Linked DNA regions of Homo sapiens. The protein of the gene in region 1 purifies or fractionates together with the protein of each later gene. This does not show direct contact. Each region holds a gene or a part of one and is shown on either strand. Other genes may lie near its edges. The genes, in order: SLC15A1, TAMM41 and BDH1.

Region 1 (3,651 bases):
TGTCCTTTATAGGAACATGGATGGAGCCGGAGGCCATTATCCTCAGCAAACTAACAGGAACAGAAAATCAAACACTGCATTTTCCCACGTATAAGCAGCAGCGAAATGATGAGAACACAAAGACACAGAGGGGAACAACACATACTGGGGCCTACTTGAGGGTAGAGGGTAGGAGGAGAGAGCTGTTTGGAAAAAACCAACTATTAGGTATTAGGCTTAGTACCTAGGTGGAAAAATAATCTGAGCATCAAAACCCTGAGTCACGAGTTACCTATATAACAAACCTGCACATGTACCCCTAAAATCGAAGTTAAAATGGTAAATAAATAATGTTACAAGTTAAAAAAAAAACAAAAATACATCAAGACACCTAAACTCACATGGTGTACTTGTTTGCTATGGTGTCTGTAACAAAAGCACCACAAACTGGGGAATTTGAAACAACAGAAAAGTCTTCTCTCACAGTCCTGGAGGCTGGGAGCCCAGAGTCAAGGGGTCAGCAGGGCCACACTCCCTCCGAAGGCTCTGGGGGTGAAGCCGATCCAGGCCTTTCTCTTGCTTCTGGTGTGGCTGGTGGTCTTTGGCATTCCTTGGCTTGCGGACACACCCCTGCCGTCTCTGCCAGCCCATCTGTCTCTGTGTCACTTTTCCTCTTCTTAGGAGCACTCTACTCACATTGGATGAGGGACCGCCTTGTCCCAGTATGACCTGGTCTTAGCTAATTACAGCTGTAATGATCCTATTTCCAAATAAGGTCAAGTTCTGAGATTGAGAAGGATGTGAATTTGTGGGGGGATGGGCAGGACACTATTCGACACCCCGACATGGTAACAGAAAGTATTCTCTCTGAACTATGTCCATGGCTTATAGATGACTTTAGGTAGAAAACATTTGTAGTGTAAAGATAACTCCACCATGGTCCTCAGCTCGGATGCTATGTCTGGTGACCAGTTCCTTCCCCCAGCAAGACAGATGGGTTTTCTGGTCATAGTTTCTGGTCAACTGTAAACGGTCCACTTAGTAAGAGAGTTGGTACGTAGAAAACAGGCCCCAAAGTGATCTAGGAGACACAGGCGATTTACCTCTAGTTCTAAAAACGACGTTCCCATTCTGTTGATGCGGTACTGTGGACCTGCAGATAAAGTTTCCAGGCAGTCTTCATGTGCAGTGTTTCACTTTTCTGGTTTTTGAAAAATATAGCTGTTTCTGCTATGCATGCTAATTCTAAAATTAGAAGACTGAAAAAAATAAGTCACCTGACATTTTTATGGAGAATTGTTAGAGAATATCTAATGAAATTTAAAATACACACAATATTTTAACAGCATTCTATGTCTAGAACTTTCTTACAGATATTCTTATGATAGGAAAGAGCCATGTGCAACCCAAATATTAGGTTGGTGCAAAAGTAATTGCGGTTTTTGCCTTTTTTTTTTTTTTTTTTTTTTTTGAGATGGAATCTTGCTCTGTCGCCCAGGCTGGAGTGCAGTGGCGCGATCTCGGCTCACTGCAACCTCTGCCTCCCAGGTTCAAATGATTCTCCTGCCTCAGCCTCCCGAGTAGCTGGGATTACAGGCACATGCCACCACGCCCGGCTAATTTTTGTATCTTGTGTAGAGAGGGGGTTTTGCTACCTTGGCCAGGCTGATCTTGATTTCCTAACCTCATGATCTGCCCGCCTCGGCCTCCCAAAGTGCTGGGATTACAGGCGTGAGCCACCGCACCCGGCTTTGCCATTACTTTTAATCTATCATGTGGGCAGAAAACTTGCATTCTGTTTTATACCCTAACGTCATACTTAACCATGATTGTAAAGCATTTTTTTCTAGTCATGATTTACCATTAAAAAAAAAAAAAGTCTGTGTGTGTATAAGTTAGGGTCTTCAACCTCATTGCCTTGAAAAACAACCCTCCAAAAGACCAAGAGATTGGTTCTTTTTTTTTTTTTTTTTTTTTTTGAGACAGAGTCTCACTCTGTCACCTAGGCTGGAGTGCAGTGACACAATCACAGGTCACTGCAGCCTTGACCTCCCTGGCTTAAGCAATCCTCCTGCCTGAGCCTCCCAAGTAGCTGGGACTACAGGCACGTGCCACTATGCCTGGCTAATTTTTGTTATTTTTTGTAGAGGTGGGGTCTTGCCACATTGCCCAGGCTTGTTTCCTTTTAATTTAGCGACATTTATGTATCTTTAGAGTCATTTTCTCCTGTGACAATATACAATATTATTAGGGCCACCGTTTCTGTTGCCTGCTGGGTGTGGGGAGCTGATGCTGTCCCGGAGGCTGGTATCTGCTTCCCTTTGTGTTCTCTCCTCTTTTCTCCTTCTAGAGTCTGCTCTGAGGAAGGGTCTCTCTTCTCTTTAACCTGAGCATATATTTGTTTATTTACCCTCGGCAGTCTGGCATTTAAAGAGAGTCTCACTCTTAGTTCTGAAGGAAAGGTGTTCTTCTAGACTAAAAATATCCAGGTGTAGATCAGGAAGCTAACTTGGAGAGCAAGGGTTGCTGTACTAACAGCCAGGAAAATCATCTCACCTGACTACCCGGCCTCTACCTGAGGCAGGACTTAGGACTGTCCTGAGATCTTTCCTGTTTTGCCAAACAGCTTTGCTGCATGTGAACCCTGGAGCACTCTGTGGTCTGGCTCACCTTTCCCTGAAGCTGAGAGCAGGTTGGAAATCAACTGTCTGTCAGCATGTCCAAAGGTGGCTGGATCCTGGGTCCCAGAGAGATCATTTCTTCCTGAAGGAGGACAGGAATGGCGTTCAAAGATTCATGCCTGTAGTTACAGGAACAAGATGCTGAAAGTTGTAGGTAATTTATAAAACCACGAGAGGTTGGTCATTTCAGGCCTCTTCAGCCTATGATTTTAGATAGTTGTGTGTGGAAACCTTTTTAAAAGCTAGGAGGATATCTGAACCTAAATCAGTAAGTTGTGACTATTGTGGGCAAATTATTTATCCCCCAAAATGCATATGTTGAAGCCCAAAGCCCCAATACCTTGGAGCGTGACCTTATTTGGGAATAGAGTCGTTGCAGATGTAATTCACTATGATGACGTCATACCAGGGTAGGGTGGCCCCTAATTCAATATGAGCAGTGTCCTCACAAAAAGAGGAAATCTGGACTGGACATGGTGGCTCGTGCCCGTAATCTCAGCACTTTGGGAGGCCCAGGTGGGAGGATCACTTGAGACAAGAAGTTTGAGACCAGCCTGGGTAACATAGCAGACCTTGTCTCTACAAAAATTTTAAAACTTAGCCGACATGGCTGCACACGCCTGTGGTCCCAGCTGCCCAAGAGGCTCAGGCGGGAGGATCCCTTGAGCCCAGGAGTTCAAGGCTGCAGTGAGCTATGATCGTGCCACTGCACTGCAGCCTGGGCAACAGAGTGAGACCTTATCTCAAAAATAGCAACAATAATAAAAATGAGTAAAAAGAGGAGATTTGGACATAGACTCATACACAGGGCAAGCGCCACGTGAGTATGGTGGCAGAGGTGGAGGTGATGTTCTTACAAGACGGGGAACACCAAAGCTGGGCCTCAAAGCACCAGGAGACAGGCCCAGGACAGATTCTCCCTTGCGTCCTCTGAAGGACCCAACCCTGCCGACCTCCATCTCAGACTTCCGGCCTCCAGAACTGTGAAAGG
Region 2 (3,651 bases), on another chromosome or scaffold:
CATGTCTTCTGCCAGTTGGGAATATAGTACAGCGTAATGGTGATTGATTCAGGATGTGTAGCACAACTCATCCTCGCAGGACAGTGTCTTCAGGCTGTGCCACTGCTCTGAGTTGACACATAAAATTATCTGCCTTACCCTTGCATCTTTTAGGTCTACAGGTGGTGCTCATCTCTGCCATTCGTCCTGGGATATGGTTTTATTTTTTCTTTACTCTTTTGGCCAGGGGGAGAGAATGGCAGCTTCATGCCTTTAATCCCAGCACTTTGGGAGGCTGAGGTGGGTGGATCAGTTGAGGCCAGGAGTTCAAAACTAGCCTGGCCAACATGGTGAAACCCCATCTCTACTAAAAATACAAAAATTAGCCAGGCATGGTGGTGTGCGCCTGTAATCCCAGCTACTCGGGAGGCTGAGGCATGAGAATCACTTGAGCCTAGGAGATGGAGGTTGCAGCGAGCTGAGATCGCGCCACTGCACTCCAGCCTGGGCAACAGAGCGAGACTCTGTCTCAAAAATAATAATAACAAAATATTAGCTTTATTGATGAATACCTCATACACCATAAAAGCTAGTGTTTATAGTATAGTCACAGAGCTGCACAGCCATCACCACAATGTAATTTTAGAATATTTCTGTCACTCCATACCCTTTAGCCGTCCCCAGCTCTCCCCTCACCCAGGCAACCACTAATCCACTTCTGTCTCTGTAATTTTTCTGTTCTGGACAGTTCATATGCATGGAATCATATAAAGTTTTTTCCATATCTGCTTTTTTCTTAAGTTGACATATAATAATTGTATCCATGTCCGCTTTTAAAATGCAATTTGACTTTCACAGTTTAGCTGAATGCTTTCACTTTCGTTATTTTAATGAGAGTTAGTGTAAGGAAAATGAGAATTTACCAAATTTTTAAATCATGTCACCTGGTATTTTATCTTTACACTCATGCTTTCAAGTGAAAATTCCAGTGCATTATTTTCCTCAAGAGAAAGCAGTGGCAGATAAGTACTTTCTAATTTTTTTATATGTCACTCAAGCCGTTGGAAGCTTCATAGGTAAAGCATAACTTAAATATAAGTTTATTCTAACTAATCCCAATATGTGGCCTCAAAACATAAGTCCATAAATGTCATTTCTAAGATTATTTTACATAAATACTCAAATTTGTTGTCATTTTTGTAGCCAAAGCTAAGTAGAGGATGGGGCCTGTGAATTTAGAACCATCCTAGTGATAAATATCAAATATTTAGATAAAAACCTAAATATTTACCCCTCTAGCTTTATGGAGCCATTAAATAATAACATTTTTCTCCTTCTCTTCATAGAGTTTATAGACAAAACTAGAAAATTCAGGTATTTGGTATATACTTTTTTGTTTTTTTTGATACCATCTTGGTCTTGTCACCCAGGCTGTAGTGCAGTGGCACAATCACCACTCATCGTAGCCTCAACTTCCCAGGCTCAAGTGATCCTCCCACCTCAGCCTCCCAAGTAGACAGAACTGTAGGCTTGCACCACCATGTCTGGCTTTTTTTTGTTTTCTTTTTTTTTTTCGTAGAGCCGGATATCTCACTCTTTTGCTAGGGCTGATGTTGAATTTTTGTGCTCAAGCAATTCTCCTGCCTCAGCCTCCCAAACTGTTGGGATTACAGGTGTGAACCTGTGCTCCTGGCCCATTTGGTATGTACTTAATAAATATTTATTCAATTTAAAAAATGGTAGAATGAGTGGATTCTAATTATTAAGAAAGTTCGTCCTATCTGTAAACTCTAAGCCTAAAATGTAATACATTGATCTGATTTTTTCTTACTCTTCTCTTAGTTGAAGTTAAAACCTAAATATTTGTTAAAAGGATACAAGACAGATTCTTCCTTGGGAAATAATGTGATGGGCTGTTGAGGGCAGTGTTACTGGTTCTGCACTTGGCAGGAAATCAATGTTTACAAGATTTTTAAAAATTCATTCCACGAGGCACAGTGTATGAAACTTGGAGTTAGGAAAGCTAGGTCTGGCCTCAGCTCTGTGGCTAACTTTTGATTCAAGGGTTTCTGAGTAAAGTCTGACACATAGTTTTACATGTTTTATTTATATATTTATCTTCAGCACCTTAGTATGTTTTAGAATACTTTGGGAACCGAAGCCGCTGGCATAGTAGCTTTAGGACAACTAAGTTGTATTGATTCAGTTACTCATTTCCTTATTGTTTTTTGAGTACCTACTGTGTGCTGGGGATTAAAAGTAAGTAAGATTAGTTTCTGTCATCAGTGTATTCCTACAGTTTGTGAAATACAGCATACTAAAAGGCCCTACAGGCAGGAGACACAATTCAGATCCCACTTACTCTCATTGGTGATGTGATCAGGGCACGCCAGTCTCCCTGTGTTTGAAATGGGAGGGGTCATCTCAGTGCCTGGATTTGACGCGGCCTCCACGAGTGTCAACTGCAGCACCACTTCCTTTGACTGCTGGATTTAAGACAAATATAAATTTTAAAACCAAAAGTCAGAAATTGATCCTTGAGAGTGGCTTCTATTCTTTTCTCAGGTAGAAATGGAATATTATAGGACAAGAATTGTCCTTTTTGAAGGGACTTAGACTCCTGAACACTTACCCATTCAGTTTCAGAAAAAGAGAGTTTCCTTAGCTTGCTGCCTCGCCAGGGGTGTGGGTGCATATATGTTTGTGTGATTTTTAAAGAGAAGCCCTGAGTTTTGGAGTATTTGTAGGATTTAAAGCACTTCCATAGACGTCGTCTTTTTTTTCCTCCCTTCAGATAGATAAAAGCCCAGAAGGACAGTTCACTCAGCTGATGACATTGCCCAAAACCTTACAGCAACAGATAAATCATATTATGGACCCTCCTGGAAAAAACAGAGATGTGGAAGAAACTTTATTCCAAGTGGCTCATGATCCCGACTGTGGAGATGTGGTGCGACTAGGTACGTTTATGAATTTGATGTTGAGGAAATGCCAGCCATGGGGAAAAGCAGACTTTGTTTGTGATTGGAATGTATTATTTCTTCCTTTTTGTTTAGCGAGATAGAGAGATTGCCTCTCAGAAGAAGAAAGCACTAAAAATTTGAGGGTTTTCTAAATCTGCATTTTTATTTGTTTGAAGTAAGATGGTGAAAATACTTCTGTTTTTAAATTCCTGGATCCTAAATCACTGTCAAAGGGAGAAACAATGTTTCTTTTGGTTCCTAGAGCACAACTTCTAGAATTTATTTAAAAGATGTGTCTGTGTTTTGTGGTGGTCTGAGAAAAGAGATTGGTGGCATTTTTTTGTGCTTTTATAACATCGAGAACACAGCTTTCCTCAATCAACTCCATTTGATGTGTCTCATACATTGTTGAGTACATTCCCTCAGACATGGCCCACGTTCCACAGCATTTTCCCCAGCACTGCCCTGATGTTTATCCAAAACTCTGAACCCAGGCCAGGTGCAGTGGCTCACGCCTGTACTCCCAACACTTTAGGAAGTCCAGGAGGGAGAATCACTTGAGGCCAGGAGTTTGAGACCAGCTTGGGCAACAGAGCAAGACCCTGTCTCTGCAAAAATTACAAAAGTAGCTGGGCATGGTGGCACATGCCTATAATCTCAGCTAACTTGGGAGTCTGAGGTGGGAGGATCGCTTGAGCAGTTGGAGGCT
Region 3 (3,651 bases), on another chromosome or scaffold:
AATGCCTGCCCCTTTGAGGGGAGCCCCTGCTGCTGCCTCACAGGAAAGCCCCCAGCTGTGACCTCTGCAAGATGGTCATGTTGGAATGGAACACAGTGAGCCCAGCAGTGAGGAAGGATGCGCACGCTGTTTTCTTTTTTTCTGGAGTAGGAGTGCTTTCCATGTGTTATACCTTGACAGTGGAGCGGGCCCTTGAGAGAAGCCCCAAGTGTTTCTAGCATTAAAAAATGTCTCCAAGATTCCAGGTTGATATGTGAGCATCGTGATTTTGTGACAGTATCTTATGAGTTTGGTCCCTGGGAGTCAAGCCCCCTGTGCTCAGTCACCTCAGGGCAACTAATTACTTGACTTTCAAGGCTGAGGAGACTGAGCACCCGCCTCCCACAGCCATTTCTGTTCCCAAACTAAAAGGCAAGAAAGTGGTGTGTGAAGTTTGAGAACTTAATATTTACAGAGAATAAGGCCTGGCACAAAACATGAAGATGGCAGACAGCTACCCTGAAGAGTCTTTGGGAGCCCTGCAGTGGAAATAGCTGCATGTTTAAGAAACACGCATGCAACAGACTACATTGAGAACAGTGCATTGTTCAAGGGACTGAGTTTTTTGTGTTTTTTTTGTTTTTTTTTGTTATTTTTGTTTTTGAGACGGAGCCTTGCTCTGTCACCCAGGCTGGAGTGCAGTGGCGTGATCTCAGCTCACTGCAACCTCCGCCTCCTGGGTTCAAGCGATTCTCCTGCCCCAGCCTCCCGAGTAGCTGGGACTGTGGGCGCCCGCCACCACGCCTGGCTATTTTTTGTATTTTTAGTAGAGACAGGGTTTCACCATGTCAGCCAGGCTGGTCTCGAACTCATGACCTCAGGTGATCCACCTGCCTCAGCCTCCCAAAGTGCTGGGATTACAGGCGTGAGCCACCACGCCTGGCCAAGGGACTGAGTTTTTATGCACTTTTAATTATTTTGGCTTTAGTACTTTTAGATATGGCTGACTTCAAGGAAAACAAAATGGAAAGCAGCTGTCTATTTGGAGATCATATTAAAGCATTTTCTGCCACAGGCATTGAGCTAAGGGGTGGAAAGGACTTTAATTATAGATGACTGGATGGGAAGTTTCCCAGTGATGGTGACCTCAGACTCTGGTCCTGGGTCTTGGAGGGAGGAGGTAGAGATGTGTGTGCTTAGCCAGCTGGTCAGTACTTAGATGGTGGGAGGGGGTGCCTCATGAAAAAGTCTGAGCCAACGTGGGCCTGTGCCTTCCATAAAACCATAAAAAGCCAGTCTGGGCTCCATTCTGCTGCTCTCTGCAAGGAGCTTTCCATGGAAACTTCTTTTGTGGCCACAGGCCGACTTTCCACCCCCAGACTGCCCTGCGGGAGCCCGCTCAGCTCCCATCCACTCCCCAGGGACTCAGAGTGCCTCCTTTGCGTCAGGCTCGTTCTAGGCACTGAGGATTTGGTGGTGAACCAGGTGGAGAGGATTCCTGGTGTCACTGAGCTTAGGATCTAGTAGAAGATAAAGTAAATAAACATAATTTTGAATTAAGGTAGCTGCTATGAGAGTGATCTTACAGAGAGCAACCTGTGTGTTGAATGGGAGCCACTTTAGTGAGGGAGACAGAGGACTCAGCATCCAGGATGAGGGCAGAGCAGGAGCCGGTACTCTGAGGCAGGAACGCCCTCACGTGGGCAAGGAGTTCTTGGAGTCAGTGGTGGCTGCGACGCAGTGAGCAAAGAGGAGGGTGGCCCAGTGAGCTAGGGGCCTCCAGGGAGGGAGAGGCCAGCCCCCACGGGCATGGAAAGTTGGCTTTAAACACGGAAGTCGCATAGCTTGACCGGTGTTAAAAAGGTTTCTTGGGCTGCTGTGCTGAGAATGGGGGTGTGGCAAATAGGGGCAGGAGTACAAGCGAGAGTTTACTGTAGTTCTGGAAAGGTAACACCAGAGAGGTTTCTGCCTGCTTTCCTTTCCTGAGGATTAAACAGATTAAACGCCTCCACCTGCTTCCAGCAGAGTGCATGGCAGTGGTTGCTCAGTTAACACTGCTGACCTCTGGGCCCAGGTGGCTGGTTATCAGTAAGGTTTGGGGTGGCAGCAAACAGGCAGGGGAGGAGCCTCCCAGGCAGTACCTTATTACCAGGAACAGTATGACAGACTACAGCCAGGTAGGCAAAGGAGAGGCTGGAACCCATTTACCAGCCCGCCTTCCTTCCCTTAGGCCTGGAGGAATCACTATTAACAGAACAGGAGGGCAACGCATGCCCGTGCTGATCAGCGGTCAATAATGCTGAAGAGTCGTGGTGCCTAGCAGCCTTAAGGTGTTACCAAGAGATTCTTGTTGCAATAAGGTTGCTTTAACCTCAAATGGTGAGGGAGCGGGGAGGGTGTGTGTGTGTGTGTTAATTACAAGAGTCTCTTATTTGGCAGCTCCAAACTCTATGCTATAATGAATTACTGATTAATTCAGCCTCAGAGCCAGAGCCCCCTTGTTTGTTCGCATGGGGGAAAGAGGTGGACGGCTGAGTCAGATGCTATGTGGCATGAGGACAAGCTGCCTGCAGGGGCAGGTGGGCACCTCAGGAATGAAGGCTGATGCCCTGGGGCACCACAGGTGGGTGTTTCAGCAGGTTAGAGGAATAGGACTTACCGAGTCAGAATCCCTGAGGGGTTAGGTCCCCGAGTCTCCCAGTGGTTGGCGGGTTTGAGGATCACTGATCTGGGCCAACCTGCTCACATTATGAATGGGTGATGACTTGCCCAGGGTTGCCCAGTGTGTTTGGTGGCACAGCTAGAGCCAGAACCCAGGCTTCCAGGCACCCTGGCTCCTGACTCTTTCCATTGTGAAGCTGCAGCTTGAGAGAGGAACCAGAGTGGACTACCTGGTGGTACCAGGACTGGAGCTGGGTGGAACAGATGCAGCCCAGTTTGACTTTCACAACCTGAAAGGAACATGACTGCTCCTGATTAAAGCCCGGAAGGCAACAAAGTAATGCTGAGGGTGCATTTATGTTTCAGAACCACCGGGAGGAACTGGGCCATTCTAACACCCGTTGCTACCATGCTGGCCACCCGCCTCTCCAGACCCCTGTCACGGCTCCCAGGAAAAACCCTAAGTGCCTGTGATAGAGAAAATGGAGCAAGGTAAGCAACCAGAGGTGGTGGTGGCCTTGAGGGGACACTTTCTGAGCAGGCAGAGGTTTTCACACATGGACAGTGTAGGCGGTGATGAGGCCTGATTCTCAGAGATGTCTCTCAATACCTTTGTCTCCCAGCAGAGGAAACTCAGAGGTGTCCTGGGAAGACATTTTCCCAGGGCACACAGGGCAGAAAGGAATATCTTTCATAACCACTTATTTTTTTTTCTTTTTGATGGAGTCTCACTCTGTTGCCAGGCTGGAGTGCAGTGGCGTGATCTCGGCTCACTGCCACCTCCGCCTCCTGGGTTCAAGTGATTCTCCCACGTCAGCCTCCTGAGTAGCTGGGATTACAGGCACCTGCCACCATGCCCAGCTAATTTTTATATTTTTAGTAGAGACGGGGTTTCACCAGGTTGGCCAGGCTGGTCTTGAACTCCTGACCTCAGGTGATCCACCCGCCTTGGCCTCCCAAAGTGCTAGGTTTACAGGCATGAGCCACTGTGCCTGGCCATAACCACTTCTT

Evidence for each region.
Region 2: the proteins of SLC15A1 (region 1) and TAMM41 purify together in Homo sapiens (affinity purification with mass spectrometry; 2 studies listed by BioGRID and IntAct, with this or other methods). This does not show direct contact.
Region 3: the proteins of SLC15A1 (region 1) and BDH1 purify together in Homo sapiens (affinity purification with mass spectrometry; 2 studies listed by BioGRID and IntAct, with this or other methods). This does not show direct contact.

Annotation. Positions count from the first base shown.
Region 1 is NC_000013.11:98,742,548-98,746,198, reverse strand, and holds part of SLC15A1 (solute carrier family 15 member 1), read left to right. Parts: intron 1-3,651. UniProt on the Homo sapiens protein: Electrogenic proton-coupled amino-acid transporter that transports oligopeptides of 2 to 4 amino acids with a preference for dipeptides. Transports neutral and monovalently charged peptides with a proton to peptide stoichiometry of 1:1 or 2:1.
Region 2 is NC_000003.12:11,808,805-11,812,455, reverse strand, and holds part of TAMM41 (phosphatidate cytidylyltransferase, mitochondrial isoform a precursor), read left to right. Parts: intron 1-1,558; coding exon of another isoform or gene 1,559-1,680; intron 1,681-2,773; coding exon 2,774-2,939; exon of another isoform or gene 2,940-3,651. UniProt on the Homo sapiens protein: Catalyzes the conversion of phosphatidic acid (PA) to CDP-diacylglycerol (CDP-DAG), an essential intermediate in the synthesis of phosphatidylglycerol, cardiolipin and phosphatidylinositol.
Region 3 is NC_000003.12:197,545,842-197,549,492, reverse strand, and holds part of BDH1 (D-beta-hydroxybutyrate dehydrogenase, mitochondrial precursor), read left to right. Parts: intron 1-3,006; 5' UTR 3,007-3,049; coding exon 3,050-3,132; intron 3,133-3,651.